Linked DNA regions of Homo sapiens: all the other regions are linked to region 3. Evidence: fine-mapped expression QTL. A gene starts in region 3. Each other region holds a variant in brackets. All regions are shown on one strand. Distances are between the middles of the regions.

Region 1 (8,000 bases), 210 kb after region 3:
TATCTTTTTCCATTAATTTACTTTGAATCTGTCTGCGTCTTTACATTGAAAGTACATCTCTTGTAGGTAGAGAATAGTTGGTCTTGTTTTTGTTTGATCCATTCTGAGAGTCTTCAACTTTTAGTCCACAGTCATTTAATGCAGTTATCGATGTGTTTGGGTTTGGCATGTTTATTGTTGTTTCTGTATTTCCCCTCTGTTTTTCATGTCTCTCTTCTCCCTTTCCTGCTCTGTTAGTTTTCTGTTGCTGCTGTGACGAATGATTCACAAACCGAAGAGTTGTGGAACTGAGGTTCCCATTTATTTGCAGTCTGTGGATGGCAGGCTGGTCTTTGCTCCTAGAGACTTCTTTCTCATGCTTTCCATGTAGCTCCTCCAGCAATGGTGAATGAAGATCTTCTGACACTTTGAGTCTCTCTGACTTCTTCTCTGCTACTTCTCTGACTCCAGCTGGAGAAAGTTCTCTGTTTTTCAGGGGACTTGTGAGTAGGATCCATGGAATAAACCAGGATAATCTCTCCGTTTTTAGGTCCATAATCACTTTTTTCATGTAACATAACACATTCAGAGGTTCCAGGGTTAAAGGTGTGGACATCTTTGGGGGATCCATTTTGCCCATTATATCTGCCTTTTTATGGATTTTTAGAGTATTTACACACTTTGTTTTAACTTATTTATTGGCTTTTAATCTATACCTCTCATCTCAATAGATGCAGAATTATCTTAATAGATGCAGAAAATTATTTAAAAATTTTAATACTTTAATTCCTATAAAATTTAAACTATTTCCTTCTATAACCAGTTTTCTGAGTGTTTTCATGATAGAAGTATATCCAATAAAGGTCAAATACAACAAGCCCACAACAAACACCATACTCAGTGGTGAAAATTGAGAGCTTTTCCTCTATGATCAGGAACAAGACAAAGATGTTCAATCTCACCACTTCTATTCAGCATAGTACTGGAAGTCCTAGCCAGAGCAATTAGGCCAGAAAAAGAAATAAAAGGCTTCCAAATTGGAAAGGAAGAAGTGAAATTATCTCTATTTGCATTTTTAAAGTGATTGCTCTAGGGATCACATGAAACATCTTTAGCTTTTCACAGGCTACTTAGGGTTGGTATTGCATTGCTTCACATACAATGTAGAAACTTTTCAGTATAGGGCCTACTCATTCCCCTTGTAGCAGGACGAGCCGCAGACAAAACTCCTCAGACACGGAGTTAAAGAAGGAAGAGGTTTATTCGGCCGCGAGCATCGGCAAGACTCCTGTCTCAAGAGTTGAGCTCCCCGACTGAGCAATTCCTGTCCCTTTTAAGGGCTCACAACTCTAAGGGGGTCCACGTGAGAGGGTCGTGATCGATTGAGCAAGCAGGGAGTATGTGACTGGGGGCTGCATGCACCGGTAATCAGAACGAAACAGAACAGGACAGGGATTTTCACAGTGCTTTTCCATACAATGTCTGGAATCTATAGATAACATAACCGGTTAGGTCAGGGGTCGATCTTTAACTACCAGGCTTAGGTCAGGCAGGCCCAGGCCTGATTTCGGGTCTGGTTCCTTGGTTTTGGGTCTGGTTCCTAGGCACCAGGCTAACTGCCTTTAGTTTCGCTTCTCTTTCTTTTTCTGAGTATAAAACCGTATAAAACAATGTGAGAGGGCCTGTCTCTCTTCTTCCACCCTCACCATCCTGTATGCTATAGTGTTATATGCATTGCATCTGTACATTAATACCCTAAGAGGCAATGTAAGGATTTGTGCTTTAAATAGTCACATGCATATGTATTTTTTTAATTAAAAGAAGAGTCTTTTATGCTTATCCAGATATTTATGCTTCTAATGCTCTTCATTAATTCCTGAAGGAATTAGAGTTTTCTTCTGGTATTATTTTCTCTTGTATCAGCTTGAATAACTTCCTTTAGCATTTCTTGAAGGGCTGGTCTGCTGGAAATGAATTCTCTTAGTTTTATTTTATCTGAAAAGTCTTTAATTCTTTTTCATTCTTGAAGGGCATTTTCACTAATTATAGAATTTGTTTTTTTTCCCCCCAGCACTTATAAAGACATTATTCCACTGTCTTCTGGACTCTGTAGTTTCTAATCTTAAGTCTGTGAAAAATTTGAATCATTGTTCTCTATATATAATGTGCTATTTTTCTCTTGCTAATTTTGAGATTTTCTTTCTTTTGATTTTCATCAGTTTGACTGTGATGTGCCTAGCATGGTTTTCTCCACATTTGTCCTATTTGGGGTTCTTTGAGTTTCTTGAATTTGTAAGTTTATGTCTTTCACCAAATTTCTTTTTGGCCATTATTCTTCAATATTTTTTCCCCTTCTCCATTCTCTTTCTTGTAGGAACTTTTGAAACCACCTTTGCAAAAATTATAACTGAGAAATCATGGCAGTGAAAGAGATCTGACTTAAGTGACTTCATCTTGCTTCTAACCTCCAAGTTGTCCTTGTTTTTCCTGGGCGGAGGTGTAGGCCAAAATAACCTTCAGAGAAACTTAGTTTATAGTTTAACTTTGAAACAAAGAGATATTAGCCCTTTCCCAAAACAAACACCCTTCCTGCCTGGGGATTGCCTAAAGCCAGAGGATGAGAAATTATGGTTTAGGAGTCATGCAGTTGAAGGCTGCAAGACTCTAAACCTCCCCAAATTGCTCCTGGGGATAACATCACTATTGTAAAACCTAAGATCGGTACTTGAGATATTTTGCAGACCCTTCATCTGATGGATCAGTTAGCACCACCCAGATTGATAAACTGGCTCATCTGGCCTTGTGGCCCCCACCCAGGAACGGACTCACAGCAGGAGGACAATTTTAACGCCCTGTGATTTCATCTCCAGACAGCCAATCAGAACTCCTGAATCACTGGCCCTCTACCCACCAAATTATCCTTAAAAACTCTGATCCCTGTATTCTTGGGGAAACTGATTTTGAGTCATAATAAAACTCTGGTCTCCTGCACAGCTGGCTGTGTGTGAATTACTCTTTCTCTATTGCAATTCCCCTGTCTTGATAAATCGGCTCTGTCTAGACAGTGGCAAGGTGATCTTGGGTGGTTACACTTTAATCACATGTATGTTAGATCTCACTCTGTCAATTTATAAAAGCCCCTCTGCTTAAGTCATTTCTATTGATCTATCTTCAAGCTCTCTGACTCCTGCCTATGTCATCTTCATTCTCATGTTAGTTCTATCCAGTAAATTCTTTATTTCAGATATTTTGTTTTTCATTTCTAAATGTTCTTTTTTTTATTTTCCTCTTCTGAGGCTTCCTACCTTTTTCTTTGTGATGAGCATATTTTCCTTTACCTCATTAAGTGTATTGTTAGAATAGCTGCTTTAACACCTGGATCATATTGGGATTGGCCTCTGTTGATTGTCTTCTTTCCTTGAGAATGGGTCAGATTTCCCTATTTCTTATATGTAAAGTAAGTCTTTTTTGCTTGAGAATGGGTCAGATTTCCCTACTTCTTATATGTAAAGTAATTTTGAATTGTACTAGCACTTTGTGAATGCTATATTGTGGGTTATATTTCCTTAAAGAGTATTCATATTTGTGTCTTAGCAGGTAACTAACCTGGTTATACTTACATTTCCATATCTGTCTCTCAGGTGGAGGCTTAGTTCTCAGTCCTGTTGGGTTTAAATGCAAACTACTTTGAGCCTTGTCTACTCACCCTTTGTTCAAGGACTGGCCAGAGGCTTGGGCAGAGTTTACATATACATGCCAAGAATTCCCTTCTCTAAGTCTCCTCTTTCTGGGGTTTTTATATTCTGCTGGCCGTGGACTTCCAGGTCTCTAACTTCCACCTCCTCAGGCCAGAAAGAGGTTGGCTCTTCCACTAGATGTTGAGCCACCCGGTGCCATTTTGGGACAGCAGCATGCTGTCAGACCTAGGTGGCAAAAATGTAGAACTCTATGATGAGCCCTTCTTCCATGTTTCAATGTCCCTGTGAAATCTACTGGCTATTTTTACTCTACAGAGCCTTCAGGTATATTTTTTTTTTCCTTCTAGCTTTAATTTTTTACCTGTTTGGGTGTGGGAGGGAATCTGTTAAGAGATTTCCTACCATACCAGAAGCAGAACTCTGGCTATCTTCTGCTGTTTTCTTAAACTTCTACACTGCTGGAACTATTTTTCAGATAAACTAGATCAGATAATTTTTATGGTAAAGTTAGACTGACATGTCATCATCTTCAGCCATCTCATTTTCTTACCCGACATTGGCAGTTTTACATTCTTATATATTCTTGCTACAAGATACAGGAGCTAGAAACAAGAATCATTTTATTGTCAGTCACAGTTCTGTGGGTTGACTGGGCTCTACTAGGTGGTTTTTCTGCTGCATGTAATAACAGCTGAGGCTACAGTTCCCTGAGAGCACAGTTGGGCTGAAATGTATGAGATGGCTCATGACATGGCTAAGTGGATGGAGCTGGCTATTGGCTTGGGGGCGTAGCTCACTGCCTAATGTAACCTTTTTATGTGGCTTGGATTTCACAAAGCATGGTGGTTGAGTTTTGAGTTGACATACCCAAGGGAAATTGTTATATCAGGGAAGAAGTGGAAGCTTCTGTTTTACTGAAAATTAGGCTTTTCTATTGGTCACATAGTCACTGTGCTGGTCAGATTCAAGAGGAGAATAAAGCAATCCACCTGTCAATGGGAAGAATAACAGAAAACAGTGTGGGCATCCTTAATTCACCCCACCTCATACTGTCTGCTCTTATTTGTCACCCATAGCCTTTGTTCATGCCTTGATCATCTCTTTATAGAATTCCTGAAATAGCCTTCTAGCCTCTCCCCTTCCCCCCAGTCTTGCCTCTCAAATGACTATCTACACAACTCTTTGTCTTCTCCAGAAAGGCTTCCTTTATTTCCCAGGGTGAATAAGCCT[C/T]TCATCTCTCCATTATTCCATAGCATTCTGTAATACTTTAACATTTACTACATTGTTCTGAAATCATAAAATCTATTTGTCTGTCTCACCAACCAGTCTGCGTTTCTCAGGGGAAGGAACTATATTTGATATATCCAATATTTCTCCTGTTGAGAGTTTACCAGCCTGTAATTTTCTTAAGGTAGGGGACTCTGCCTGCTTTATTTATTTTATCTTCAGTACCTAACTTTGTGTCTAGCTCATCAGAGATCCTTAATACATATTTCTTGAACCAAAATGATTTTTTTTAAATTCACAGTCAGTTAAGGCAGAGCAAGAACTCGATTCCAGATTTATTTCCCCTCTAATTTACTTCTTTCTAGGGCCCTCCAGCAGCCAAGTGAATCTAAACAATCCTCAAGGCCTCTTTTCCTTAGCAGATCTATCGTATCTTTATCTCCATATCTCAAAAGCACTTTCTTTCATATGTTTTAAAATATAAACTGAGCTTAATAAGATGAAAAGGTTTCAGGATTTTCCTGCATTGGTCTCTACTCCAGTCTCTCTAGTGGGCAATGCACCAAAACACTGCTCTATTTCCTAGCTTTAAACTTGAAGAAATAATCTCCAAGCTCCAGGGCTAAGAAAAGGATTGTACATTAAAGACTTGTTGCTTTGGACTATGAACCTTACAGGTCAATTTTTTTCTGGAATAGTGCTAATAAAGAGAAAACAAGTTAAATTATTCACCTGGAGGCCTAGCAGGTTGTATCCTGAAGGCTGAAGTCAAGTGCTTACTCAAACATTGAATTTGAGCTGCTTTTTTCTGTATTAGGGATCCCAATGCTTGGTGCAGAACAAGAACTCGAGATTTCTTTGACGTCAAGGTTGGCTCTACCTAGAGTGTGATTCTTGAACTGTAGTGTGTATAAGATTCACACGGAGAGTGTGTTAAAACACCAACCCCAGGCCCCACTTCAGAGAATTCTAATTCAGTAGGTCTAAGATGGCGTGCGGGAGTAGGCGTGCCTGTGAGTCTCCTGTGAGCTGCTGATGCAGCTAAGGCTTTAAGGCAGAGTTGTTCAGCAGTGGAATTCTTGACATTTTGGGCTAGATAATTATTTGTGAATAGGGAGCTTTCCTGTGCATTGTAGGATGTTTAGCAGCAACCCTGGTCTTTACCCACTGGGTGCCAGTCATACCCTGCCTCCTAGCTGTGACAGCTAAATGCATCTCCAGGCATAGCGAAATATCCCCTGGTGGAGCACAGTCATTGCATGTTGAGAACCACTGGTCTAGGGTATCTGGATGGCTGTGGATTGAGGTATCACTGAGTAAGTTTGGGTGGTGGATGACAAGGTCAGTTTTAGAGTCTGCTGAGCTTAACTGGCTTATGGGGCACCATGAACATCCAGTTCTTTAAATATCAAAGCCCAGTGGAATGATCTGGATTTGGAAGGCATTGGCATATATTTAAAACCATGAAGGATGGATAAAATGTCCAAGTAAATGATGTACCCAGTGAGGAACAATGGATGCAACACAGAGCCTTGGGGAACACTAACTCATTAAGTGGCGAGTGAAGAAAGTGTGCATCTAAGAAGGAATGATAGGGGGATATAAGAGAAGGACAAGGAGAAAAAGATGTTTCAGGCAGCAATGGAGGAGAGTGTGTCAAGGAGAAAAGGGAGGTGATGTCAGTAGAGGAAAGATTCGGTAACACCAAGTTCAAAAAAGGACCATGGGACGAGGAGATCACCTTGACCACAGAAACCTGTTTTGTGCAACAGGATGGCCATTGACTCCCTGTGTCTACTGAGCATTTGAAGTGTGGCTAGTGTGACCTGAAATGTGCTATATGTGTTAAATTCACTCTGAATTTCAGACTTGCTGTGAAAAAAAAGAATGTGAAATATCTCATTAATAATAATTTTTATATTGATTGCACATTAAAATGATAATATAGTGAGTTGAATAAGATACATTATTAATATTAATTTCAACTTTTTCTTTTTACTTTAATATATGTGGTTTGAGGGCAGGGCGCAGTGGCTCACACCTGTAATTACCAGCACTTTGGAAGGCTGAGGCGGGCGGATCACCTGAGGTTGGGAGTTTGAGACCAGCCTGACCAACATGGAGAAACCCCATCTCTACTAAAATTACAAAATTAGCTGGGTGTGGTGGTGCCCACCTATAATCCCAGCTACTTGGGAGACTGAAGCAGGAGACTCTCTTGAACCCGGGAGTCAGGGGTTGCAGTGAGCCGAGATCACGCCACCGCACTCCCGCCTGGGTAACAAGAGCAAAACTCTGTCAAAAAAATAAATACGACCAGGTATGGTGGCTCATGCCTGTAATTCCAGCACTTTGGGAGGCCGAGGTGGGTGGATCACCTGAGGTCAGGAGTTCGAGACCATCCTGGCCAACATGGTGAAACCCCAAATCTACTAAAAATACAAAATTAGCCAGGTGTGGTGGCGCATGCCTGTAATTCCAGCTACTTGGGAGGCTGAGGCAGGAGAATTGCTTGAACCCGGGAGGCGGAAGTTGCAGTGAGCCAAGATCGTACCATTGCACTCCAGCCTGGGTAATAAGAGCGAAACTCCATCTCTAAATACATACATACGTACATGTATACATACATACATACATACATACATACATACATACATACATACAAGTCAATAGAGGCAAAGAAATGATAGATGCAGGGGAGAGAAGAAGGAAGGAAGCAATACAAAGCCTAGAGAGATTGTCATTGAATGGATAGGGGGAGTGTCGGGGAGATTAACTTGTATCTATTTTCAACCTCTTTCAGCCTCCTCCTTTTTTCCTGCAAAATGGGAGTAAGAATCACGTTGCAATAATAACGCCTACCCACTGGGTTGTCTGGAGGTTTACGTGAGATAATAGATGGGGACTACCTTTGGAAATAATGAAACACTGTATGAATTCCAACCGCAGTCATAAGTGTCTTTCTTTCTGACATTTCACTGTCTTTGCCTCCTAATGCATTAATAATTCATACTGTTTTAAAATTTTTTTAATTTCTATTTCAATAGTTTTTGGGGTACAGGTGCTTTTGGTTACAGGGATAAGTTGTTTAGTGGT
Region 2 (8,140 bases), 73 kb before region 3:
TGGGAGGCTGAGGAGGGCAGATCACTTGAGGTCAGGAGTTCAAGACCAGCCTGGCCAACATGGTGAAACCTTGTCTCTACTAAAAATACAAAAATTAGCCAGGCGTGTTGGCATATGCCTGTAATCCCAGCTACCGGGAAGGCTGAGGCAAGAGAATTGCTTGAACCTGGGAGGCAGGGGTTGCAGTGGGCCAAGATCGAGCCACTGCACTCCACCCTGGGCAACAGAGCAAGACTCTGATTTAAAAAAAAAATGTTTTAAATTAATGAAGCCCCCGTGAAACTCAGATCCCAGAAATGTGTCCTGTCATCGTCCTTGCCTTCTGAGTCACTCACTTTTGCTTTACCATTCTGGGAAAGGGCTACATTTTCCAAAGTATATTTGTATATTTTTAAAATTTTTTTATTTTTTATTTTTGTCTCTTTACTTTTTTTCTAAAGCACATCTGTAGGGCTCTAGTCCTAGGGATCTGTGTAGTGCAGTGGTCCATAGAGCTTGGAAAACACTGGGTGAAACTCAGCTAAGCTGACTTCTGTAATTAACAAGTTTACTCATGTAAATATTCAGTTAATTTATTCATTTATTGTAGGGTCCAGTCCTACGGGGCTTATTGGGTGTTCTCCCCGTGTGTGGAGACGAGAGATGATAAGAAATAAAGACACCAGACAAAGAAGTAAAGAGAAAAACAGCTGGGCCTGGGGGACCACTACCACCAAGACGCAGAGACCAGTAGTGGCTCCAAATGGCTGGGCGGGCTGATATTTATTCTATATAAGACAAGGGGCAGGGTAAGGAGGGTGAGTTGTCCGAGTGATTGATAAGGTCAAGCAAGTCACATGATCATGGGACAGGGGGCCCTTCCCTTTTAGGTAGCTGAAGCAGAGAGAGAAGGCAGCATACATCTGCATTTTCTTCTATGCACTTATCAGAAAGATCAAAGACTTTAAGACTTTCACTGTTTCTTCTACTGCTATCTTCTAAGAACTTCAAAGAGGAACCAGGAGTACAGGAGGAACATGAAAGTGGACAGGGAGCATGACCACTGAAGCACAGCACCACAGGGAGGGGTTTAGGCCTCCAGATGACTGTGGGCAGGCCTGGATAATATCCAACCTCCCACAAGAAGGTGGTGGAGCAGAGTGTTCCCTGAGTCCTCCAAGTAAAGCGAGACTCCCTTTCATGGTCTGCTAAGTCACGGGTGCTTTCCCAGGCACTGGCATTACCGCTTGACCAAGGAGCCCTCAAGCGGCCCTTATGCAGGCGTGACAGAGGGCTCACCTCTTGCCTTCTTGGTCACTTCTCACAATGTCTCTTCAGCACCTGACCCTATCCCCGCTGGTTATTCCTTTGTTATATCAGTAATTAAACAAACAGTAATATTAAAGGCTAATGATTAATAATGGTTATACTAATGATTGATAATGTCCATGATCATCTCTATATCTAATTTCTATTATAACTATTCTAATTGTAACTATTTTCTTCATTATACTGAAACAGTTTGTGCCTTCAGTCTCTTGCCTCGGCACCTGGGTAATCCTCTGCCCACAATTTATCACGTTCTTATTGAGTGTTCCTCAGCATTATGCTAGGAAGGGGGATACTGTAGTGAGTTAGACTTCACTCCTCATTTCCCAGAGCTTCAAATCGAGTAATGATGACTGCAGGCCTTCTTGGAGTCTTAATTAACTGAGTATACCTAATTTGCTCAAAAAGGAATTGGGTGTCCTGCATTTTCTGGCCTGAAAACCTTTTTAAATAAAACTACTTTTTGAGTTCATTATTCCTTGGAACACATCTTCGGGGAATTCTTGAGTTAGGCTGTAGTTGCTAACACTGAGGTTACCATAACCATTACTATCCCTTGTGTCCTCAGAGGCCTGGTGTTCATTGAGTGTTTACCTTGTGGCCTTCGCATTTGTCATTGTATTTATTATTTATTTTTATATTTTGAGATGGAATCTTGCTCTGTCACCCAGGCTGGACTGTAGTAGCACGATTTCGGCTCACTGCAACATCCATCTCCTGGGTTCAAGCAATTCTTGTGCCTCAGCCTCCTGAGTAGCTAGGATTACAGGGACCCGCCACCATGCCCAGCTAATTTTTAAATTTTTAGTAGAGACAGGGTTTCAACACGTTGGCCAGGCTGGTCTCAAACTCCTGACCTCAGGTGATCCTCCCGCCTCAGCCTCTCAAAGTGCTGGGATTACAGGCATGAGCCACCGGGCCCAGCCTTGTATTTATTTTTATTATTTATTAATTTATTATTTCTATTTTTAGAGACAAGGGCTTCCTCTGTTGCCCGGGCTAGAGTGCAGTGAATGATCATAGCTCACTGTAACCTTGAGCTCCTGGCTCAGGCGATCCTCCCGCCTCAGTCTCCTGTGTAGCTGGGATTACAGGTGCACCACCACACTTGGCTAATTTTTTTTGTTGTTGTTTTCTGTAGAGATAGGGTCTTGCTATGTAGCTCAGGCTGGTCTAAAACTCCTGGGCTCACACAGTCCTCCTGCCTCAGCCTCCCAAAGGGCTGGGATTACAGGCGTGCATCACTGTGCCTGGCTGGATCACTGTGTTTCATTCTTACACTGATGCTGATGTCAATACTTTTTAAAAATCCCTTCTTGATACATGAGAAAATGGAGGCATAGAGGAGTGACGTAGTCTGCCCAAGATCACCTACTTGGGAAGTGGCAGAGCCCAGATTTGGATCCTGCTAGAGCCTGCAGAACCCCTTTAACCCAATGGTTTGCCACTGAGGGTGATTTTGCTCCCACGGGTCAGCTGGCAATGTCAGGAGACATTTTTGCTTGTCACTAGTTGAGATGGAGGTGCATTGGCATCTTGTGAGTAGAAACCAAGGACGCTGCTAAACACCCTAACATGCACAGAACAACCTCCCACAACACAGAATTACCAGCCCCAAATGTCAACAGTTCCAAGGTTGAGAAACCCTGCTTCAGCTAATCATTACACGGGTTTTAGTTCTATGAGTACCCCACAATTCATTAGGGAGACAGGACAAAGGCATACATGAATTCTAGTACAAGGAAGAGGCATGCTACAGAAAGGGTATAAATCATCCTTATGGCCCTCATTAGACCTTTTAATTTCCTTATAAGCCCTTTATTGCCACGGCTAATCCTTGCTAACCCTGCTCAGGGCTGTTTTCAGCAGAGGAAAGTTACCGAGCCCGTCCCCGCCCCCCGCCCCGCTTGACGTCTGGCGCCTCCTGGTGGCCTCAGGAGAAACTCCATCTTCCTCAGATACCCCACAAAGTCCTTCCCCTTCACCTGCCCCAACTCCAACCTCAGCCGCATCTCCCTGGGGCCCCTCGGCATCCTGATATAGTCACTGCCTCCCGTTGGTGGTCACCTACTGGCCGCAGCCCGGGACCTCTCACAGGAGCTGCCCTCTCTGCCTGTGAGTTTCTCCATTCTTTTTTTTTTTTCCCAGCTTTTGCACTGGGTACACTTTTTTTTTTTAAACTCTCCACTATGTTAATGAGGACCATTTTTCTTCTGCTTTGCAAACCCTGCTCACCCCTTCAGACGATGCTTAAAGACCCTCTCCTCCTGGACATCTTTCTGATTCTCCCAGAAAAAGTGAATGGCAGGGTCTTTTGTGCTTTCAGGCCTGGGATTTATGGTTAGGTTATAACTTACTAATTTATGTCTCTTTGTTCGTCCATCTGTGTGTCTGTCCCTCCACCTGTGGCTTCTAAGCCTGACTACAAAATGTCCTGGAGGGATTGCTAAAAACAAAGAAAGAAACAAGCAAGCAAACGATCTCCATCACTACAGGCATTTGCGTATATTTTTACATTCCCAGGGGGTTCTGAAGTACCCTAACATCTGAAAACAGCTCTGTATTGTTGCTCTTCCTTGTTCAGATCTGGCTGAAATGTCACCTCCTAAAAGAAGTGTTCCCTGACCTTTTGTAGTATTAATGACAAGGTTGGAAGAGGTGGCTCGAGGATTTATCACTGGAGGCTTTGAATGCCAGGTTAGGCAAGACAACGGGACATGGCTCTGTGGGCTTCTTAGGGTTTTTACCAGAGGGAGGGAGGTGATTCCTGGTGAGTGTTGGCAGTGTTAGTCCAGCAGGTTGGTGCAAGATGGGTGCAGGAGAGGTGAGGGCTAGATGTGGGGAGTTCCTACTAAGAGTTCTTGTAGCAACTTG[G/A]GAATGAGGAAACCGGGGCTTGGGCTGGCTTGAAGGCTGTGAGCATGGAGCTTCGGGGAGAGGAGAGAAGGGGACAATGTCAACACGTCTTAGACAGGTCCAGGCACTGATTAGCTATGGGGATGGCTGTGATGAATGAGTCAGACATGGCACTCAGAGTTCTAGCCTTGGCACCAGAAGGCTGGTGCTACTGCCAGAGGTAGAAAAGGCAGGGGAGAGCTCCTCTCCTGAGGGTAGATGATGGATCAACACTGGGACCCACTGAGTTTGAGATCCTAAGAGGATCATCTAAGAGTGGACTGAGAGGAAGGTCAAAAGAGGGGAAACTAGAGAGGAATCCCTGGAAACACACGATGCCTCATTTCCTGAGTTCAAGAAATAGCTCTTCCGGCATCTCCTACGTGCAGGCCCCCACGCCAAGTGTGCGGGTGAAGTGATGGATTAAACGGGTGTGATTCTTGCCCTCATGGAACTTCCCCTGTAGTGAGGGAGAGAGAGGAAAGAAATGTACCAAATATTTTCCAAAATTAATAATGGCTGGGCGCAGTGGCTCACACCTGTAATCCCAGCACTTTGGAAGGCGGAGGTGGGAGGATTACTTGAGGCCAGGAGTTTGAGACCAGCCTGGGCAACATAGACCTCGCTAACAATAAAAAATATTGGCCGGGCGTGGTGGCTCATGCCTGTAATCCTAGCACTTTGGGAGGGTGAGGCAGGCGGATTGCCTGAGCTCAGGAGTTCAAGACCAACCTGGGCAACATGGTGAAACCCCACCTCTACTAAAATACAAAAAATTAGCCGGGCTTGGCGGCGTGCGCCTGTAGTCCCAGCTACTTGGGAGGCTGAGGCAGGAGAATTGCTTGAACCCGGGAGGCGGAGGTTGCAGTGAGCTGAGATTGCATTGCTGTACTCTAGCCTGGGTGACAGAGCGAGACTCCGTCTCAAAAAAAAAAAAAAAAAAAAAGCCAGGCATGGTGGTCTGTGTCTGCAGGCTAAGGTGGGAGGATTGCTTGAATCCAGGAGGCAGAGGTTGCAGTGAGCCGAGATTGTGCCACTGCACTCCAGCCTGGGTAAGCGAGACTCTGTGTCAAAAATAAATAAATAAAATAAAATGTTAGCCAGGTGTGGTGTCATGCACCTGTAGTCATGAGTCTCCTGAGGTGGGAAAATCCCTTGAGCCCAGGGGTTCGAGGCTGCAGTGAGCCATGATTGTGCCACTGCACTCGAGCCTGGGTGACATAGCGAGATCCTATTTCTTTTTTGAGACAGAGTCTCAGTCTGTCACCTAGGCTGCAGTGCAGTGGCACGATCTTGGCTCACTGCAACCTCTGCCTCCTGGGTTTGAGAGATTCTCCTGCCCTAGCCTTCCGAGTAGCTGGGATCACAGGCACCTGCCATCATGCCTGGCTAATTTTTGTATTTTTAGTACAGATGGGGTTTCACCATGTTGGCCAGTCTGGTCTCAAACTCCTGACTTCAAGTGATCCTCCTACTTTGACCTCCCAAAGTGCTGGGATTACAGGAGTGAGCTGGGATTACAGGAGTGAGCCACCACACCTGGCAAGACCCTGTCTTAAAACAATAATAATAATAATAATAATAATAATTGCTCTGAAAGAAACCAAGATAAAGAAAAAAAATGTATCTTAAGTTCCGTTCCCTAGAGGCAGTCTGAGATGGCAACTGTTGTGCCAGTGATTTTTTGAGGGGCTGCTCTCAGTGAAAGGAAAGTCAGAGAAGCCAGGTAGTTAATCCTTTAGAGAAGGTTTCAGGTATGAGCCCTAAGTAGCTGATACCTACAGCAGTTGGGGGTGGGTCCACTGGCCTGGTGACAAGGATCTGAGTGGGACATTGACAGTATCTCCTCCCTTGTGGTAAGGGAAGGCCTGAGGAGGTGGCATTGAAGCTGAGACCTGAAGGATGGGAAGGAGAGAAAACCTGAGGCACGTGGTTGATGGACAGAAGGCAGTGCTCTGCATTCCAAGTGGAGGGGGTGGCACCGCACTAGTCCTGATGTGGAAGCAAGCTTGATGTATTCGATATTAAATTTTAAATGAAATTATTTAGGTATTAGACATTACATTTTAAAGGAAATTATTTAATTTAGGTATTAGACATTAAATTTTAAATGAAATTATTTAATTTAGTACATTAAATAATTTACTCTTTATATTTTAATTATTTAAAATGAAATTTAATATTAAAGAAAGCCAGGGTGGCTGGGATTTCTGAACCAAGGGAAGCGTAACCCAACATGAGATCAGAGCATCGCCAGGGACTTGTAAACATCGTGCAGAGCCTGGATTTTATGCTAAGGGCAACGAGAAACCTTTGAAGAGGTTTTAGGCGAGCAGCTGCCGAGATCTAATTTATGTTTCAAGATCATTCTGGCTGCTGTGCAGAAAATAGAGTAGGGTGAGGCAGTCATGCAAACCACAGTGCTAAACACTTCACAGGCATTCACGCAAATCCCACGGTGATCCTCGTTTTCCAAGGGGTAACTGAGACCCAGCGAGGGTAAGCTATCTGCCCAAAGACACACAGCTAACAAGGCAGCAGAACTAGGATTAAAAAAAAAAAAAATTCATTTTTAGAGACAGGATCTCACTCTGTCACCCAGGCTGAAGTGCAGTGGTGGGACCATAGCTCACTGCAGCCTTGAATTCCTGGGCTCAAACCATCCTTCCACCTCAGCCTCCTGAGAAGCCAGGACTACAGGCGAGGCCACCATGCCGTGCTAATTTCATTTACATTTTTTCATAGACACAGGGGTCTCGCTATGTTCCCAGGCTCGTATCAAACTCCTGGGCTCAAGTGATCCTCCTGCCTCAGCCTCCCAAGTAGTTAGGACCACGGCTGTCACCATGCCCGGCTAATTTCATTTTAATGTTTTGTAGAGATGGGGTCTCGCAGAGATAGTTAGGGTTAGGGTTAGGTTAGGGTTAGGGTCTCGCAGCAAGACCCATCTCAACGAAAAATTTAAATGAAATTAGCAGGGCCAATTGGCCTCCTGGATTGCTTAAGCCCAGGATTTTTTGTATTTAAAAGAAATTTAATTTAATGAAATTTAAAGGCAAACAATTTAAAGGTTGGTGTCGAACTCTTGGGCTCAAGCAATCCTGCCTCAACTTCCTAAAGTGCTGAGATTATAGGCTGAGCCACTGCACCTGGCCAGGAGCTGGGAACGGATTGCAGGCCACCGAAGCTGCAGTCTGAGCCCCCACTGTAGGAGCTCACCGCCTCCTTCAGGGTCCGCCTGCTCCCCTTCAAGGCCAGCAACGTTCTGCACAGGGCAAGAGCTCCATAAATGCTCTTTGGGCGGAAAGGTGTGGGAGTGAGAGAATCTGGACAGGAAGGGCCCACAATGGAGTGGGGAAGGCACCGAGGGGAGCAGGCAGGGTCCGAGGAGGAGGGAGTTAGCGGAGGGAGTGCTGGTGGGGTGGTGGTCATGAAAATCAGACGTTCCCAAGCGACACACCCGGACCAGACCGTAGAGAAGATGCTGGACTTGGTGCGTGGGAATCATCAGCGACCCCGGCTAGGGCAGCTTCGGGCAGCGTAGGGAGGAAGCCAGATTGCAACGGATTAAGGAGTGAGGGGGTGGCGAGATTTGCTGTCCTGATTCAGCCGCCGCGGCGGCAGCCCGGGCTGGCTCTCCTCCCACAGGTGCGGGCTCCACATGCGACGGGAACACGTGTGCCCACTCGTGCCACAGGCATGCAGGTGGGTGGAGGGGGCGGCTGGGGAGGACTGAGGCCCGGGAGTGCGGACAGCCGGGGTGCACAGCCTGAAACGGAGAGCAGAGGGCTGTGGGCTGCCGCGGGACCACGCGCACAAGACCCCACGCGTGGGCTCCGCCTGGGGGGAGTGAAACAGAGCGGAAGGGGTTTGCTTGGGTGCTGGGATGCTTCTCTGTGGAGGTGGCAGAGAGAAGGAGGGAGTGAAATGAGAGAGAAAA
Region 3 (8,116 bases):
AGAACTAATAGGATAGATGTATATATAAAGGGGAGTTTATTTTATTTTATTTTATTTTTTATTTTTTTTGAGACGGAGTTTTGCTCTTGTTGCCTAGGCTGGAGTGCAGTGGAACAATCTCAGCTCACTGCAACCTCCGCCTCCCAGGTTCAAGTGATTTTCCTGCCACAGCCTCCCAAGTAGCTGGGATTACAGGTGTACACCACCATGCCTGGCTAATTTTTTGTATTTAATAGAGCTGGGGTTTCACCATGTTGGTCAGGCTGGTCTTGAACTCCTGACCTCAGGTGATCCACCCGTCTCGGCCTCCCAAAGTGCTGGGATTACAGGCATGAGCCACCGTGCCCAGACTAAAGGGGAGTTTATTAAGGAATATTGACTCACATGATCACAAGGTGAGGTTTCACAATAGACTTCAAGCTGAGAAGCAAGGAAGCCAGTCCGAGTCCCAAAGCTGAAGAACTTGGAGTCCGATGTTCCAGGGCAGGAAGCATTCAGCCCCAGGGGAAAGATGGAGGCCAGAAAACTGAACCAGTCTAGTCTTTCCATATTCTGCCTGCTTTTATTCTGGCTGTGCTGGCAGCTGATTAGACGGTGCCTACCCAGATTGAGGGTGGGTCTGCCAGTCCACTGACTCGAATGTTAATCTCCTTTGGCAACGCCCTCACAGACACACCCAGGAACAATACTTTGCATCCTTCAATCCAATCAAGTTGATACTCAGTATTAACCATCACAGTTGATATAGCTGCTATGAAGAAGTTTTTCTTATCATCTGAAACTCTTTGAGCAGCAAAATTCTGCTTAGCATCCTAAGCTGCATTGAGAATTAAGCTTGGCAGCATAGATGGAGTAAGGCTGTCATGATCTTATACACGCTGTCACAGTCTCTGCATGTATGGTGAAGTTCCAGGTGCCTGACACACGATGTGCTCCACCCTGGTGACATGTCCACCCCAGTGCAACTCCAGCCTCCTGTGCCTATGTTTAGAGGCACAGTGTCCCTTCCAATGAAGGGCTGCCTTCTTTCTCTATTCAAAAGAGGCCGTATCAGTTTGATTTATCTTTCTATAAGTCTGATCATGAATAACTTAAAACCCTGAATACCAGTATTTTTCAAGAAAGACAAATCCAATTTCAGGGTCAGCATCAATTTATGAGAATAGCAAGTGCAGAGGCATCATCAGAATCCCCTATGGATCTAAAATAACTGTCCGTGCTTGGCCCCACACCTGGAGATCCTGATGGAGTAGATCTAGAGTGGGCATAGGCATCTGTGTTTTATTTTCTTTATTTATTTTTTTTGGGACAAAGTCTCACTCTGTCACTCAGGCTGGAGTGCAGCAGTGTGAACACTTGGGTTGTCATCATGTTGCCCCGGCTGGTTTCAAATTCCTGGGCTCTCATCATGTTGCCCAGGCTGGTTTCAAACTCCTGGGCTCAAGTGATCCTCCTGCCTTAGCCTCCCAAAGTTCTGGGAGTACAGGCGTGAGCCACTGCACCCAGCCACATCTGTATTTTAAAAAGTCCCATAGATAAAACCCACATATCCATTGCAGGAGACTGGATACACAAAGTGTGGCTTATCCATGCAATAGAGAGCTAGCTGCTCAACAATAAAAAATAAAAAAGCTGTTGATACATGCAACAACACAGAGGAATCTTCTAGACATCAGGGTAAGTGAAAAAAGCCAGTCACCAAAGAATACATAGTGTAAAATTCCACTTATATGAAGTTCAGAAAAGGGCAAAACTAATACATGGTATTAGAAATCAAAATTGTAGTTTACACTGAATGGGGGGAGTGGGATTGACAACAAAGGGACACAAGAAAACTTCCTGGTGGTGATGAAAATACTCTGTACCTCATTTTACGTGACGGTCTATGTGGATACACACAATCTCAAAAGTAACAAACTGGCTGGGTGCAGTGGCTCACACCTGTAATTTCAGCCTTTGGGAGGCCAAGGCCAGAGGATTTCGTAAAGACAAGAGTTTGAGACCAGCATGGACAACATAGCAACACCCAATGGCTACAAAAAATAAAAAATTTGCCAGATGTGGTGGCATGTGCTAACCACCACAAGTCCTAACTACTTGGGAAGCTGAGGCAGAAGGATCACTTGAGCCTAGGAGTTCAAGTTAATAGTGAGCTACGACCACACCACTGCACTCCAGCCAGGGCAAGAGTGAGACCCTGTCAAAAAAACAAAACAAAACAAAACAAACAAACAAAAAAATAAAAAAACACCAAAAAACCTTCACAAATGAAACCCTTGAGAGATATGCATTTTATTGTCTATAATTTATAACTCATTTAAATAAAATGGCCTAACTTCCCCTTTAGACCCCAAGCCAGAGTCTTGCATGGGTGCCAAGGAGTGGCCTAATCAGTTCAGCCCAGCCATAGACTCAAGAAAGGAAACATTTTCCTGTTCCCTGCCTTATATTATACAATCCCCCATTTTAATTTACTTTCCAGCATTTCCCTCACGCTTTCTCTGTCTTTTGGATTAAAAAAAAAACAAAAACAAAAACCCAGGAAACCCAGCATAGAACAACCAGCTCAATAATGAATCCATTTGTCTCCACACACTGTGCCCCTCTCCTGTCTCCATTTCAGCAGCCACATCCACATTCTTGGAAGAAGTTCCCCTGCTTCCAGGCTACTTCAAGGTGCATGATGTTGATTGAGCATCTACTATGTGCCAGACCTTGTTGACCCCTTTATTAAGGCTACTTCCTTTTCTTTTCAAAATAATCCTGAGAAGTAGATGTTTTTACTGCCCCCCATTTCCAGATTAGTGATCAATAAAGGGAAGTAATATAATGTCCAAAAGTGATATTTTAGTTTGATCCAGGTGCCATAGCAAAACATCATCAACAGCAGAAGTTTATTTCTCTCACTTCTTGAGGCTGGGAGGTCCAAGATGAAGCAGCAGCAGACTCAGTATTTGGGGAGGGCCTAGTTCCTGTTCATAGGCCGATGCCTTCTTGATTAAGTCTCACTTGGTGGAAGGACCTAGCTGACTCTCTGGCATCTCTTTTATAAGACCACAAATCCCATTTTACTCTCATGAAGCCATGAAGTCACCTCCTAAAGTCCCCACCTCCTAATACCATCACCTTGGGAGTTAGGATTTTATCCTATGAATTTGGGGGTGGGAACACACACATTTAGACCGCAGCAGGTGACATTAGGTTAAGTGGAGGAGGCAGGGTTGGAACAGTCATTGCAAAACCTCTTAGAATTTAAGACCCCTTTCCTTCCAAGGCCTGAAAGGCAGACAGGCGTTGGAGATACAGGTGAATATAAAAGGGGCAGAGCTCCTCCCTTGACCATGTATTTCATGCCCAGTCGCTAGAATTCAAGTCAACCAAGCCCTCACACACCCGGGCCGTCCCATGTTCTCTGGCTCACCTCTTCTGGTAGCTTAGAAGTGGCAGCCTCAGGGAGGCTTCTGTTTGGTAGAACTTAGAAGGAAGCATGTGGGAAATGCAGATGTCTTTGCTTTTAGGATTCTGGCTCCCTGAGATCAGAGGAGTGGGTTCCCGTACGGGGGTGGCGAGGCACAGGGAGAAGCATTGGAGCAGACTCTGTGTGTGTGTGTGTGTGTGTGTGTGTGTGTGTGTGTGTGTCGGCGCGCCTGTGCGTGGAGGGGGATAACTGTACCCAGCGCGAGGCACTGGGGGAGGAGGAAGCGGTAGCAGAGATCTGAATAATTGATTCTTCAGCCGCACCAGACGCCCGGGAGCGGGCGGAGAGCGTGGTTCCAACACCACGGACAGCAGCGCGCGCCGCCGCAGGCGCCCCCGTCGCCAGCCAGCCACCTATCCTGGCCTTATTTGCCGCCGTGCGCTCTCGGAACGGGTGGCCGCGCTCCGCGTCGCCGCCGAGGGACTGCGGGGTCTGTCTCGACCCACCTAGGAGAGAGGCTGCGGGCAGGAGACGCTTTCGCCCGCCGGAGCTCGAAGCCTCTTGGGCTTGAGCGGGGGCTACTGCGTCTCGCCGGCTGAGAACAAGTCCCTAAGTTGGTGTGGAGGGCGCCGCTACCTTCCTTCTCCTCTTCCTCGGAGGCGACCGCAGCAGAAAGACGCCCCGGGAACCCGGCTTTGCCAGTGCTGTGAACCAGGGTGTCCAGGCGCTCACCGGACTCCCGCTGGGAAGTGGGGAGCCGAACGCCCGGCGCGGAGCTGGCCCAGCAGCGAAGGGCCCGGAGGGAGCTGCCTTTCCCCGCCCGCGCCTCTCTCGGCCGGGGACCGCGGGGATCCCCGGCCACACGCGAGCGCGCTCCCACACTCACACACACACTCGCCCTCAAACACACCAGCCCGGAGCTGGGTTGCGGAGAGGGTGCTCCGGCGCGCTCAGAGGACCGGGCAGTTGCCGTCCGGAGTGGGGCAGGAAGCGGAGCTAGGGATCTTGGAGGGGAGCTCCTAGGGCTTGGCCGGATCATGGGACCGGGTGAGCGCTGAGAATCGCGGCCGCAGCCATCAGCCCTGGAGATGACCAGGAGCGGCCACTGCTGAGAACTATGTGGAGAGAGGCTGCGGTGAGTGCTAGCGCGGGACGCCGGGCCTGGGAGGCCCCCTTGGGAAGGGGGGAGGTGGGAGGCCTGAAGAGGGAGGAAGCGGCAGGATCACAAGAGGGTCGCTGCGTGGGAAAGATCCACCTCCCTCGGGGAACCGGGACCGCGGGAGCCCGCGTCCTTCCCTCCCCCTCTCCTACTGCTGGCTCGTCACAAACTCAGCCAGCGCCCCCCCACCCTCGTTACCTCCTCTTTCTCTCCCTACCTCCCTCGCTCAGCAGCTCCCGGTCGCACAACTCCCAGCAGCCGGCGCTGGGGAGGTGGTAGGGGGTGCGGGTGGAGGTGCCCAGTTAGCTTCTCGTGGGTGGCCAACCTGGGGCTCCCATTCTCCTGTGCACCCTGGAGTGGAGCTCCCGCTATCAGCCACAGGGGCTGAGGATCCGCACTGGGGGCGTCGTGGGCATCGGGCTTCAGCTTCCCCCCTCTTGTCTAGCCCCCCTGGGCGCATAGGGGGGCTTGTGAGCACTGCAGACTGCAGCCTTCCCCTCAACCCTCCCTCCCCTCGTTGGTGGGCTGACCCTGCCTCTCCTTCTCTCCTCCGCCCCGTTAGAGCCCTGCTGCAGAGCCTCCGGCTGGGATAGCCGCCCCCCGTGGGGGCGATGCGGACAGCGCGGGACAGCCAGGGGAGCGCGCTGGGGCCGCAGCATGCGGGAACCCGCTAAACCCGGTGGCTGCTGAGGCGGCCGAGATGCTCGTGCGCGCAGCGCGCCCCACTGCATCCTCGACCTTCTCGGGCTACAGGTACGTCCCAGAGGGAGATCAGGGCTCCTTGGGCCGGGGAGGAGGGAGACTCGACCGGAGGGAGAGCGGGAGAGGGATCAGGCTAGAGAGGGAGAGGGAAAGCGGGAGGGAGCCCAGCGGCGAAGTGCAGGAGGGGCACCAGGGGGCGCTGCGGCTCCGCGCTCCGCGGCGCTTACCCAGGAACGTCGAGGCCTCTTGGAGTTCGCCTCAACTTCCCCCGGCTCCAGCAGCGTCCGTCCCGAGAGGCGCGCGTCAGGGCACGCGTGCACGACCGTGCTGGTATTTGCAGGTACGCAGGGCTGTGCACCTGCCGCAGTTCATGCGTGTGCACCACCTGAGGACATGTGAGGACTCCGGCTGGCCGTGGGCACCGCTACAGCAGTCTGAGGAAGTGCGCAGAAAAGCGCGCGTGCCTATGAGCGTGTGCGGCCCACTGCCCACGTGCACCTAGGACTTGGCAACAGCGCCCGCAGTAGAAAGGCTAGGGAGGGGCTGTACAGTCCACGTCCGTCTGGGAGCTTCTTGGGAGCCTACCTTTCCCCCTACGCACGTTCTTTGCCAGCTCCTACGCGCTGGCCCGCGGGGGGACGCGCCTACTCTCCAGAATTCAGCATTGCACACGGCGCGCGTGAGAGAGGGTGTGTGTGTGTGAACATGTGTGTGTGCGTGTGTGTGTGCACGTGTGTGTGCACGCGCGCGTGTAGGGGTGAAGGACTCTCCACGGCCCCTTGGCTCGAGGTGGGGCGAGCCCCAAGTTCCCCAGGCACAGCGGAGCCTGGGCCCACCAGGCAGCGTCCTCACTCCCAAGCACTTGGGGTGTACTCTGACTGAGAGGAGCCGGGTCTGTAGTTGGGGCTGGGCGTAGAGCAAAGTGTGTGGTGCACACGACGGGCTCGTAGGGGGCGGGGTCAGCCAACTAGCTGAGCTCTCAAGCTGGGACGCGGGGTCTGGGTGCCGCCTCCGCACGCCCTGCGGGGTCTGTAGTTCGCTCCGCGCCAGCAGGGGGCGGGGTTGATAACTTGGTCCTCTCTATCCCAGGTGGGAGGGGTTGGATGGAGGGTTTATTCTGTGCACCTAGGAGCTTGGTGGGGTACAGAACACGCGCGGCGCTTAGGGTCTGTGGCCCGCGGCGAACTTGGGGAATGCGGTGGGGGATATGGACAGAGATGGGGATGGGGAAGTGCCTGGAGACAGGGGATGAGGAAGCTGGATGCGAGAAGGGGCTGGGGGATGGAGAATTAGCTCGAATTGGAGTTGTGGATAGAGTTAGAGATGGATCGAGGGATGTGGATGGCGTCGGGGACTCGGAATGGAGTCCGTGATCCCAGCAGCCTATCCTGCTGCTGAGTTCCATGCCTGGCTCCTAGAGCAGGAAGCCAAGTTGGTAATCCCTTTCTTCTGGTCGCCTTGCTCACCGCGGCCCTGCCTCTCACTCTTCACCTTGCAGGGACCGTCAGTGGCGACTATGGGCAGAGTGGGCTATTGGACCCTGCTGGTGCTGCCGGCCCTTCTGGTCTGGCGCGGTCCGGCGCCGAGCGCGGCGGCGGAGAAGGGTCCCCCCGCGCTAAATATTGCGGTGATGCTGGGTCACAGCCACGACGTGACAGAGCGCGAACTTCGAACACTGTGGGGCCCCGAGCAGGCGGCGGGGCTGCCCCTGGACGTGAACGTGGTAGCTCTGCTGATGAACCGCACCGACCCCAAGAGCCTCATCACGCACGTGTGCGACCTCATGTCCGGGGCACGCATCCACGGCCTCGTGTTTGGGGACGACACGGACCAGGAGGCCGTAGCCCAGATGCTGGATTTTATCTCCTCCCACACCTTCGTCCCCATCTTGGGCATTCATGGGGGCGCATCTATGATCATGGCTGACAAGGTAAGGCCGGAAACTGATGCCCTGCCAGGACCTGGGAAGCCACCAGCTGCATGGCAGCTGCTGCAGGTCTTCGGACGCCCCTAGAATCTGTCTTGATGTGAAGTGGGGGTGGGGGTGGGAGGGTCGTGGCCACTGGCCCTGGTGAGAACCAGGTCTTGCCTCTCCAACCCAGAAATGAATGGAAATGCCTTTTGCCTTGTTTCTGAAAATGGTGTACACAGGAGCACTTTGGTGTGTGTGTGCCAGGAAGCGCTCAGAAAACTGAGAAGTAGGCTGTGGGGTGGTGGTGGTGGCGGTGGTGGCATGTTTGGAGATTTACGAGTACCATGGGGCACAGAGGTGGGCCCAGGAGCACTGGAGACATATGCTTCCTATTTTCACAATGCCAGTTTTACCTGATTGTTTTGTGGGAAAATGTCCATTTTTTCCTCTTATGGTAAGTGACTAAAACTATTTCTAAAAATTATTAAATGTGGGTAGGTTCTGGAAGAAAATGCAAAGTTTTTAGGTAAAGCACAAAAGGGCAGAAAAAATGTCATGCTTCCTCTGACTCTGCAGTTAGAGGAACAGAGGTGGGGAGTTTGAGAAGCCCTGGGCCAGAGGAGCGGAGGAGAGACCCGTTCCTCAAGGGGAGTGGGTGGGAGTGGAAAGAATTAACTCCAAACCCAGAGCATGGAGGGCCTGGCATTTTCCTTACGTGTTCTTTGTCTGGGGCTCCAAGGCCCTCAGATGAAGGAGTTGGCTCCTGAACAAAGATGGGTCTTGGTACTAAAGTTGGAGAGTCTCAAAATGCAAGAAAGAGTGTACAAAAATCAGTTGGCTCTGAATGAGAGGGAGGGTCTTTTTTGTGGACAGCCTGGGAGCTTTGGTTTGGAGAAGAAGGGAGAGAGATTTGAAGATTTGAAGG
Region 4 (8,140 bases), 860 kb after region 3:
GTCTATTACAGTCCTTTGTTATGCCCCGACCCCAAGCACCATACATACATGGACTGTCTCTAGGGGGACCCAGATCATTTCTGCATTTTCCCAGCTTGTCCTTGCATCTATTCATTCTCATCCTATTCCACTGTCAAGGTATCTCCAGTCCCTAGACTTAGCATTTTTCCATTTCCTTCTAGTCCCATCAAATCCTAACATGAGGATGCTCCAAGTATCCTATCAGAGCCCTTGCAACCCCAGCCATGGTTGACTTCTCCTAACCCCTTTGGCAAGAAAGACTTTGACAAAATTAGCCCATTCTAAAAACATAATGATGACAATTAAACTTCTCATTTTTTCAAAAAACCTTCACATTCAGGATTTCAGGCAATGATATGGCTTGGCTGTGTCCCCACCCAAATCTTATCTTGAACTGTAGCTCCCATAACTCCCATGTGTTGTAGGGAGGAACCCAGTAGAAGATAACTGGATCATGGGGGTAGTTTCCCCCATACTGTTCTCATGGTAGTGAATAAGTGTCATGAGATCTTATGTTTTGATAAGGGGTTTCCCCCTTTACTTGGCTCTCTCATTCTCTCTTGGCTGCTGCCATGTAAGATGTGCCTTTCACCTTCCACCATGATGTGAGGTCTCCCTAGCCATGTGGAACTGTGAGTCCATTAAACCTCTTTTTCTTTATAAATAATGATCCAAATAATCCAATAATCCAAATGATCATGGAGGGCAAGTATTTCAAGACCATGGGGTTTGACATCAAACAGAAATAGATCCAAACCTTGACTCTACCATGTACAAACTTTGTCAGATTCCTTCACCCATCTGGTCCTCATTTTCCTCATCTGGAGACCTTACCAGCACCTACCTCAGAGGGCTGCTATGAAGATTAAAGAAGGTAATGCACACAGAGGCTCATCACAGTGTCAGGCAATCAGAACTCATTGGCTGCCGTTGTTTTTATTTAACAGATGCTGTCTTTGATTTGGTTTCCTAGAAGACCCTAAAATAAAGCCTTGAATGTAAACAATGTATTTACCAGAAGATACCAGGAAGCACCAGAAGGAGAGTAAGAAAGTGAGACAGGGAAGGGAAGGAAACCAATGAGCAGGTCACCACTGTGGGCGCCCAGGGGCTTCATCCCAAGAGAGAATCTTGGAGGTGGTGTAGGACATGCATCCAGTTATCCCACCCAATGCGCCCAGTTATCCCACCCAATGCACCCAGTTATCCCACCCACAGGGTGTTTACTCATCAACTCCCATTTGCTGTTGGTTGAAGACTGCTCCTGGGGGTGTTAACTCCCTGGCACTTCTAGCTTGCTTGTGCGTGGGACAGACATGTTCCTAGAGCCAGCAGAAGCCCTCAGGCATAGTCAGAGGCTCCTTGCAGACAGAAGCGGTTGGCAGGAACAGTGAGTTTGAGAGGAGGGGGGATATGAGCATGGCACCAAAGCCTCTGCTGCAGATTCAGACAGTAGAGTCCAGGAAGGTTAGGTGCCAAGCCCACGCTCACACAAACACGGAGTGCCTGTGTAGAAAGAAAGCAAAACAACTGTGCTGGGTTCAAATTGCAGCCAATTGCAATTTAAATTGCAGCCAGGCATGGTGGCTCCCATGTGTAATCCCAGCACCTTGGGAGGCCAAGGCGGGCAGATCACTTGAGGCCAGGAGTTCGAGAACAGCCTGGCTAACATGGTGAAAAATACAAAAAATACATGGCCAAAAATACAAAAAAATTAGCCAAGTGTGGTAGTACATACCTGTAATCCCAGCTACTCGGGAGGCTGAGGCATGAGAATTGCTTGAACCCAGGAGGCAGAGGTTGCAGTGAGCTGAGATTGCAACACTGCACTCCAGCCTGGCAACAGAGTAAGACTCTGTCTCAAAATAGAAAAATTGCAAATTGCAGTTGCACCACTTGTTCATCTGTAACCTGATAGGGCTGATCCCTACCTGGGAAAGTTTTGAAGGAAGTAAGTTGTATAATGTAGGTAAACCACTTCACACAAATTAGATGCTGAAGAAATGTTGGATGCAACAGAACTGCTTAGTGACCTTTCTCTTCCCTCCTGACCCCAGCGTTCTCCCACTAGGACTGTAGCCTCCCTGACAAGCAGGGAAACTTATTTTCTCCATCCATCTAGTCATCAAATGGCTACTGAGTGCCACCTGGACACCTGGCACTACATAGGAGATGGAGATGTACAGGTGAGTAGACATGACCTTGGCCCTTCTCCCAGACACAGAGAAGCAATCAAATAAATGCAATGTGGAGGATGGAGAAGCAGTTTCTACAGCAGTGCTTCTCATCCTTTAATGTGCATGGGAATGGCCCAGGGAATTCTTACTAAAATACAGTGTCTGACTTGGGGTCTAGGGTGGGACTTAAGAGTCTTCATTTCTAGCAAGTTCCCAACTGATTCTGATGCTGCGCAGTTTTGAGCACAAGAGCTCTACAGAATTTGTTGGGGGAAAAAAAAGGAAGAATTCATTCATTCTTGGGGAAAGATACCTGCCTACTCATTGGGTTGCCTAGGTGTTGGTCCCCCCACTTTTCAAAATGAGGAGACCATTATGAAGTCCATGAACTGGAAAGGATGATTCAAGATGATCAGATCCAGATGTATGGGAAGGTGACTCTCTTACCATCCCCAAAAGAAAGTCATTCAGGGTCTACATAAAGAGGGAGACATCACCTCATCCTCTTTTGACAGTGTCTGAAGACTTGAATGGCCAAGAAATTTTTCCATGGTCCCAGCTCGTACATGGGAGTGAGTTGAGAAAACTTTATAAAACCAACACACCTCCTATAAGCCTGGAGTGGTCTTTGCTTGCACCTGTGGGACTGGAATCAGAAAGCAAGCTCAGTAAAACACATGCATGCTGCAGAGGTTGCAGCCACTGGATATCTAAGCCTCATAATGAGCAGAGTTCACTATCCAGCTTTCTGATGCATCCCTCCTTTTCCTCCTGAGAAACTGTTCAGTCCCTTCACTTTTCTTGAACATGTCCATGTAATTAAGCCTAAATCGGCTATCTGGAAGTGCACGCAAATGGGGCTAGATTTTATCTGAAGTTCCCTAAACCCAGATATAATAACAGTTACAGGGTATTCACTAAGGAAGATGCAGTGAACTATCAAACGTGCTACAGAGACCTCAACTGTCAATCAATATGTCCAATAAACAATGTGTGCATTGTTATTAAACATTTGGCATATAAAATTATTCTATAATATGTGAGAGATTAGTAGATGGGATAAAGTATCCTGTATCCTTAGAATAAATTCCCCTCTCTTACTTGCCCAAAGTAACTTGAGCAGGTTTCTATTACTTGCAATGAAAAGACTCCTGATTAAAAGATAGGTTTTCAGATGGCCCAGGCCAGCCAGTATTCCCAGCTCAATGAATATTTGTTTTTGAATGAATGAGCAATACTGTAACCCAAAAGAAGGTAATTATGTAGAATTTCTGGCATCAGCAAGACAGGAAGGAGACCTTCTCTCACCCCTAATACGTTACTCTGCTGATAGCTGCCCAGCCTCCGATGAAAAGAGGATCACAAATTCAACACAGGCAAAGGGCGGAGAGAATCTGATATTTAGAAAGAACTCTGAATACAAAGATGACCGCCTGGGTTCTGGCCCC[T/G]GATCCACTACTGAATAGCCAAATGCCCTTTAATAAGTTACTCAATCCTCAGTTGTTCTTATTCTAAAGTGAGTCTGTAGCAAATATGTGCTGGCTGCCTTCCCACATCCATCCCTTCCTCTTTCTCCCCCTAATACAACCAATATGCTTTAAGGGAAATACATGCCCTGGCCTGCAGCAAGAGTGAGCTCTGACTGGCTTAAAGCAATCAGCATCTTTTAGTCCCCCAGCCCAGTCTCCAGTTCAGACTTGGGCATGTGATCGACATAGGTACCACCAAGGTGAATCTCAGGACCCTTGCTTGAATGTGAAAGCAAAAGTGCTCATTCTGGCCCTGGACATGAGTGAGAAGGCAAGAAGCAGTTTGTTGTAACCATACTGCATTCATGACAGGAGTTAGTTTGAGAATGAATCTGACTTGCAAAATAAAGAGGAGTCACTGAAAAAAAATTACAAGGGAAATTAAGCCATAGGAATGATCACTCTGCACCTCAAGCTCGTTCTTCCTCTAAACATTTCAGTTCTATGAGTCAGGCAGTTCCCTTTGTTTTTATGACCATTGCAGTTAAGTTTGCTGTTATTAAAAATTAATACATCTGGCCTGGCACAGTGGCTCACACCTGTAACCCCAACACTTTGGAAGGCCGAGGCAGGCGGATCACCTGAGGTCAGGAGTTTGAGACCAGCCTGGCCAACATGGCGAAACCCTGTCTCTACTAAAACTACAAAACTTAGCTGGGCATGGTGGCAGGCACCTGTAATCCCAGCTACTTGGGAGGCTGAGGTGGGAGAATCGCTTGAACCTGGACGGCAGTGATTGCAGTGAGCTGAGATTGCGCCACTGCACTCCAGCCTGGGCAACAGAGCAAGACTCCACCTCAAAAAAAAAAAAAAAAATGAATGCATCCATGGATACACAGTTTCTACAAGTGTCCTGTATATATTGTAGCACAGTTCATAATGCCTGGACTGAAATAATATATTTTGTATGAAAGCACTTTTGAATCTTACAATTCTGTAGCAAGGTAAGGAATTAGTGGTTGCCCTGAAAACATATGGAAGTCAAAGAGTTAATCTTTCTCCTGAGACCGGAAAGACAATTTAGTTGTCTTGAAAAAGGCAGGATGAAGGATTCATTGTTATAACAATTGGCGTTGAGAAGCAAAAGCCAATTATTCAAAGCTCCCTGCCTATTTATTTGGTCAGTTTAAGAGAACCCATCAGACACAGCCAGATTTGCCTTAACTGAATTGGTTCAGAGAGAGCTTTGAAGCATCAAGTTCACCGTGGGGGAAATTCCATCTCAGAACATGAGTGGAGGGAGCAGAGGAAGAGTCAGCTCTCCCGGGCAAGGCCCATCCTCTGTGCTGCTCAGGGAAGCTCTAGTCCAAGGATGGTGCAGAAAACTCACTGAGAGATGGGGCTTACAGGTAACTGCTGGCCTTCCTGTTAGTGGCAATGACTCTGGTTCAAACCCACCCTCTGTCACTAGAGCTGCACAGCCTTGAACTTCTCTGAGCCTCGGTTTCTTCATCTGCAGAATGGGGATGATAGCACTTGTTCTACCTAGCCATAACCATAGGATGTGTTGCTGGAAATAGGTGTGATTTCACTCTTCTATGGGAGAGAAAAGAGGGAGGCAAGACCTAAAAGGAGCATTCACAGGGGGAAGTGAAGCATGCAGGTGCATGGATTTTACAGTACACCTAGGACCAAAACCTCTGCTACTGCCTCCTATCTTATCATTTAGGCATTTGACAGTCATTCAACCAACATCCCATTGAGAGCCTACACTGTGCCAGACACTGGATACTGATGGAAAACAAGACAGACAAGGTCCTGGCCTTATAGATCTTACACTGAGGTCAGCTGCAGTGGGGAGTGGGGGGTGGGTGCAAAAAATCAATATATAAACAAATCTAAAAGATAATTTGATGTAATGAAATTGTCCTTGCTCAAATCTCATCTCTTAGAGAGACATATCCAGCCTCCCTATTTAATGCACAACCTTGCCCCACCTGTGCTCACAACTCTCTAACCTTACCTTCCCTATTTTCCTCTCCATAACTCATTCCTTTTAATGTATCAGATAATTTATTCTTATGTGTATCATATATTTTCTGTCTCTCCTGTGAGAATGTAAGCTCCATGAAGGCAAGAATCATTGTTTTGTTCACTGCTGTAGCCAAAGTGCCTAGAACAATTACTGTGCTGGCACATAGTAGATGCTCAGTAAATATTTGTTGAATTGACTTATTTCATGGAAAGTGCTACAGAAAAATTAAGCAGGGTAATGGAATAGAGAGTGTTATGGTCCCCCACGCCAAAAAATATTCGTATGTTGAAAACTTAATCCCTGATGTGATAATATTAGGAGGTGAGACCCTTGGGAGGTGATTAGATCATAAGGGTGAAGCCCTCATGAGTGCAATTCGTGCACATGTAAAAGAGACCATAGAGATCTCCCTCCTCGCTTCTGTGGTGTGAGGGCAGAGCAAAAAGGCACTCCCTATGAACCAGGACGTGGACCCTCACCAGACAACATATCTGTTGGTTCCTTGATCTTGGACTTCCCAGCCTCCAGAACTGTGAGAAATAAATTTCTGTTGTTTATAAACCACCTGGTCTATGGTACTTTGCTGTAACAGCCCTAATGGACTAAGCCAGAGGGTAATGGAGGAGAAGTAGGATTGAAGGCCTAGTTTAGATAGAAATCTATGTAGGCTTCTCTAAAAAGATGTCTTGTGCATGACAGCTGCATGGTGAGAAGCAGCAGCAGTTATGAAGATTTGGGAAGGCATCCCAGGCAGCAAGGATGGCATGTACAAAGGCCTTGAGGCAGGAAGGATCTTGGTGTGTTTGAAGAATAGAAAATTCGGGAACTCTCGGGTGGATCTCCTGAGGTCAGGAGTTCAATATCAGCCTGGCCAACATGGTGAAACCCCGTCTCTACTAAAATACAAAAATTAGCCAGGTGTAGTGGTGCATGCCTGTGGTCCCAGCTACTTGAGAAGCAGAAGAATCTCTTGAACCTGGGAGTTGGAGGTTGCAGTAAGCCAAGATGGTGCCACTGCACTCCAGCCTGGGCAATAGAGCAAAAAGAAAAAAGAAAAAAAAAAAAAGAAAATTCAGGAACTCTGAAGAAGAAGGGTGAGAGGGAAAGTGGTGGGAGACAGGACTGGAAAGGTGTGGAATTTTGAATCCTGATAGTTGAATACCCTGCAAATCTTTGCTTAACTGCAAAGTGTTATAAGCCATAAACATGCTTATCACCATGTCTGGATCATAAAGAGAAAGCTCTTTGATAAATCCTTGTTAGATCCAATGAACTCTCCTTTTTCGTCATGGAGAATGGCTGAAAAGTTAGAAGATTTTTGACCTTTCAAAGAAATGACACAAGTGGATTTCAACAATCGCCATCTGTATAAAACTAAAGGGTCATCAGGGAGAAAGGGAACAGAATTGTTCCATGTGAAAACTAAATCCAATGGGTAAAGACCACAAGGAAAGAGATTTCAGCCCAATTTGAGACAAACTTCCTTATAATCAAACTGCACAAAGGTGAAATTGGGAGTAGTGAGTTTCCCACAACTGGAAGTGTTCAAGCCAAGGTTGAGCTTCCATGTGGTAGGAATAGGTAGAAGGAGCCCAAGTGTTGAGTAGACTGTAGACCTCCCAGGCATGCAAGTTGATGATTTTATGATAATCTTTTAATCATGCCATCTCAACACATTAGTGTTTGTTCTCTGCCTTTGTTTACAAACCCCATCAGTAAAATTCTCACAGAACACATCTACTAATAAGGTAGCAAAGACCGGAATGCATAATAAGGGATGAGTGTACCCATCCTTTGTTCAACAATACAATATTTTTCTTGAATAATGCATGAGCTGCTTTTCATTTCGGAAATGAGAGAGTCTATAATCCCACTGTGCGTCAAGCGAATATTTTTAAACATTTATAAGCAGGAGCCAAAGACAGTGGTAAGAAGCTTAGTAACAACAGAAACATGCATGGCTTGGGATCAGAATAGGCAGGGTGCTTCCATGAGAACCACAGAGGGATGGAGGAAACTGAAGAGTCACCTTTCAGTCCCCTGCTCCTAAGGTCATGGAGGGCAAAACAAACATGGGAATCTGGGTCAAGACACTCACTCCAGGGGGCTTTCCTCAAGCCAGGCTGATTTCCAGTTTCCACAGAAAACTAGACTAGGGAAGGCATATCAGCACTGAAGTTCAGTGTTTTCTTCTCAAATTAAGTTCTCTACCCAACATTCATCACTGCCCTAGCTATTTATGTGGTGGGTGAGTTCAAGGGGACAGTGACATAAACACTAGTGCCTACTTGATGTCCTCTTATTTGCTAGTATGAGAAACATTTATCACTCAGCTAAAAGACTACATTTCCCAGACTCCCTTGCAAGGCATGACCACATGACCACATTCTGACCCATGAGATGTAAAGAGATAACGGCAGAAAGGGAGGAAGAGAGAC

Direction of the effects. Alleles are on the strand shown, and positions count from the first base shown. SD is a standard deviation of normalised expression in the study named. Not every link is listed here.
In carriers of allele T in region 4, the expression in neural progenitor cells of the gene that starts at base 4,779 in region 3 tends to be lower than with G alone (large effect, 1.0 SD a copy in Aygun 2021).

The links. PIP is the estimated chance that this variant, and not a neighbour inherited with it, causes the effect.
Region 1: its variant is fine-mapped to the expression of GRIN2A in substantia nigra (GTEx, PIP above 0.99). The same link has a PIP of 0.9 or more in amygdala.
Region 2: its variant is fine-mapped to the expression of GRIN2A in unexposed skin (GTEx, PIP 0.98).
Region 4: its variant is fine-mapped to the expression of GRIN2A in neural progenitor cells (Aygun 2021, PIP 0.95).

The regions. Positions count from the first base shown.
Region 1 is chr16:9,967,831-9,975,830 of GRCh38, reverse strand. All of the region lies in intron 2 of GRIN2A (glutamate ionotropic receptor NMDA type subunit 2A), which reads left to right. Among named protein-coding and RNA genes, the nearest start is that of GRIN2A, 210 kb to the left of the region's middle. The variant C/T (reference allele first, on the strand shown) is at 4,908.
Region 2 is chr16:10,252,079-10,260,218 of GRCh38, reverse strand. It overlaps LOC105371078 (a long non-coding RNA gene), which reads left to right and starts at 7,576. Exons shown (of 3, transcript XR_001752077.1): 1 at 7,576-7,905. RefSeq lists an enhancer at 901-950. The variant G/A (reference allele first, on the strand shown) is at 4,183.
Region 3 is chr16:10,179,091-10,187,206 of GRCh38, reverse strand. GRIN2A (glutamate ionotropic receptor NMDA type subunit 2A) reads left to right here and starts at 4,779. Exons shown (of 13, transcript NM_001134407.3): 1 at 4,779-5,330; 2 at 6,778-7,209. The coding sequence starts at 6,796. RefSeq lists silencers at 5,512-5,571, 5,582-5,691.
Region 4 is chr16:9,318,938-9,327,077 of GRCh38, reverse strand. No RefSeq gene overlaps it. Among named protein-coding and RNA genes, the nearest start is that of LINC02177, 33 kb to the left of the region's middle. The variant T/G (reference allele first, on the strand shown) is at 3,647.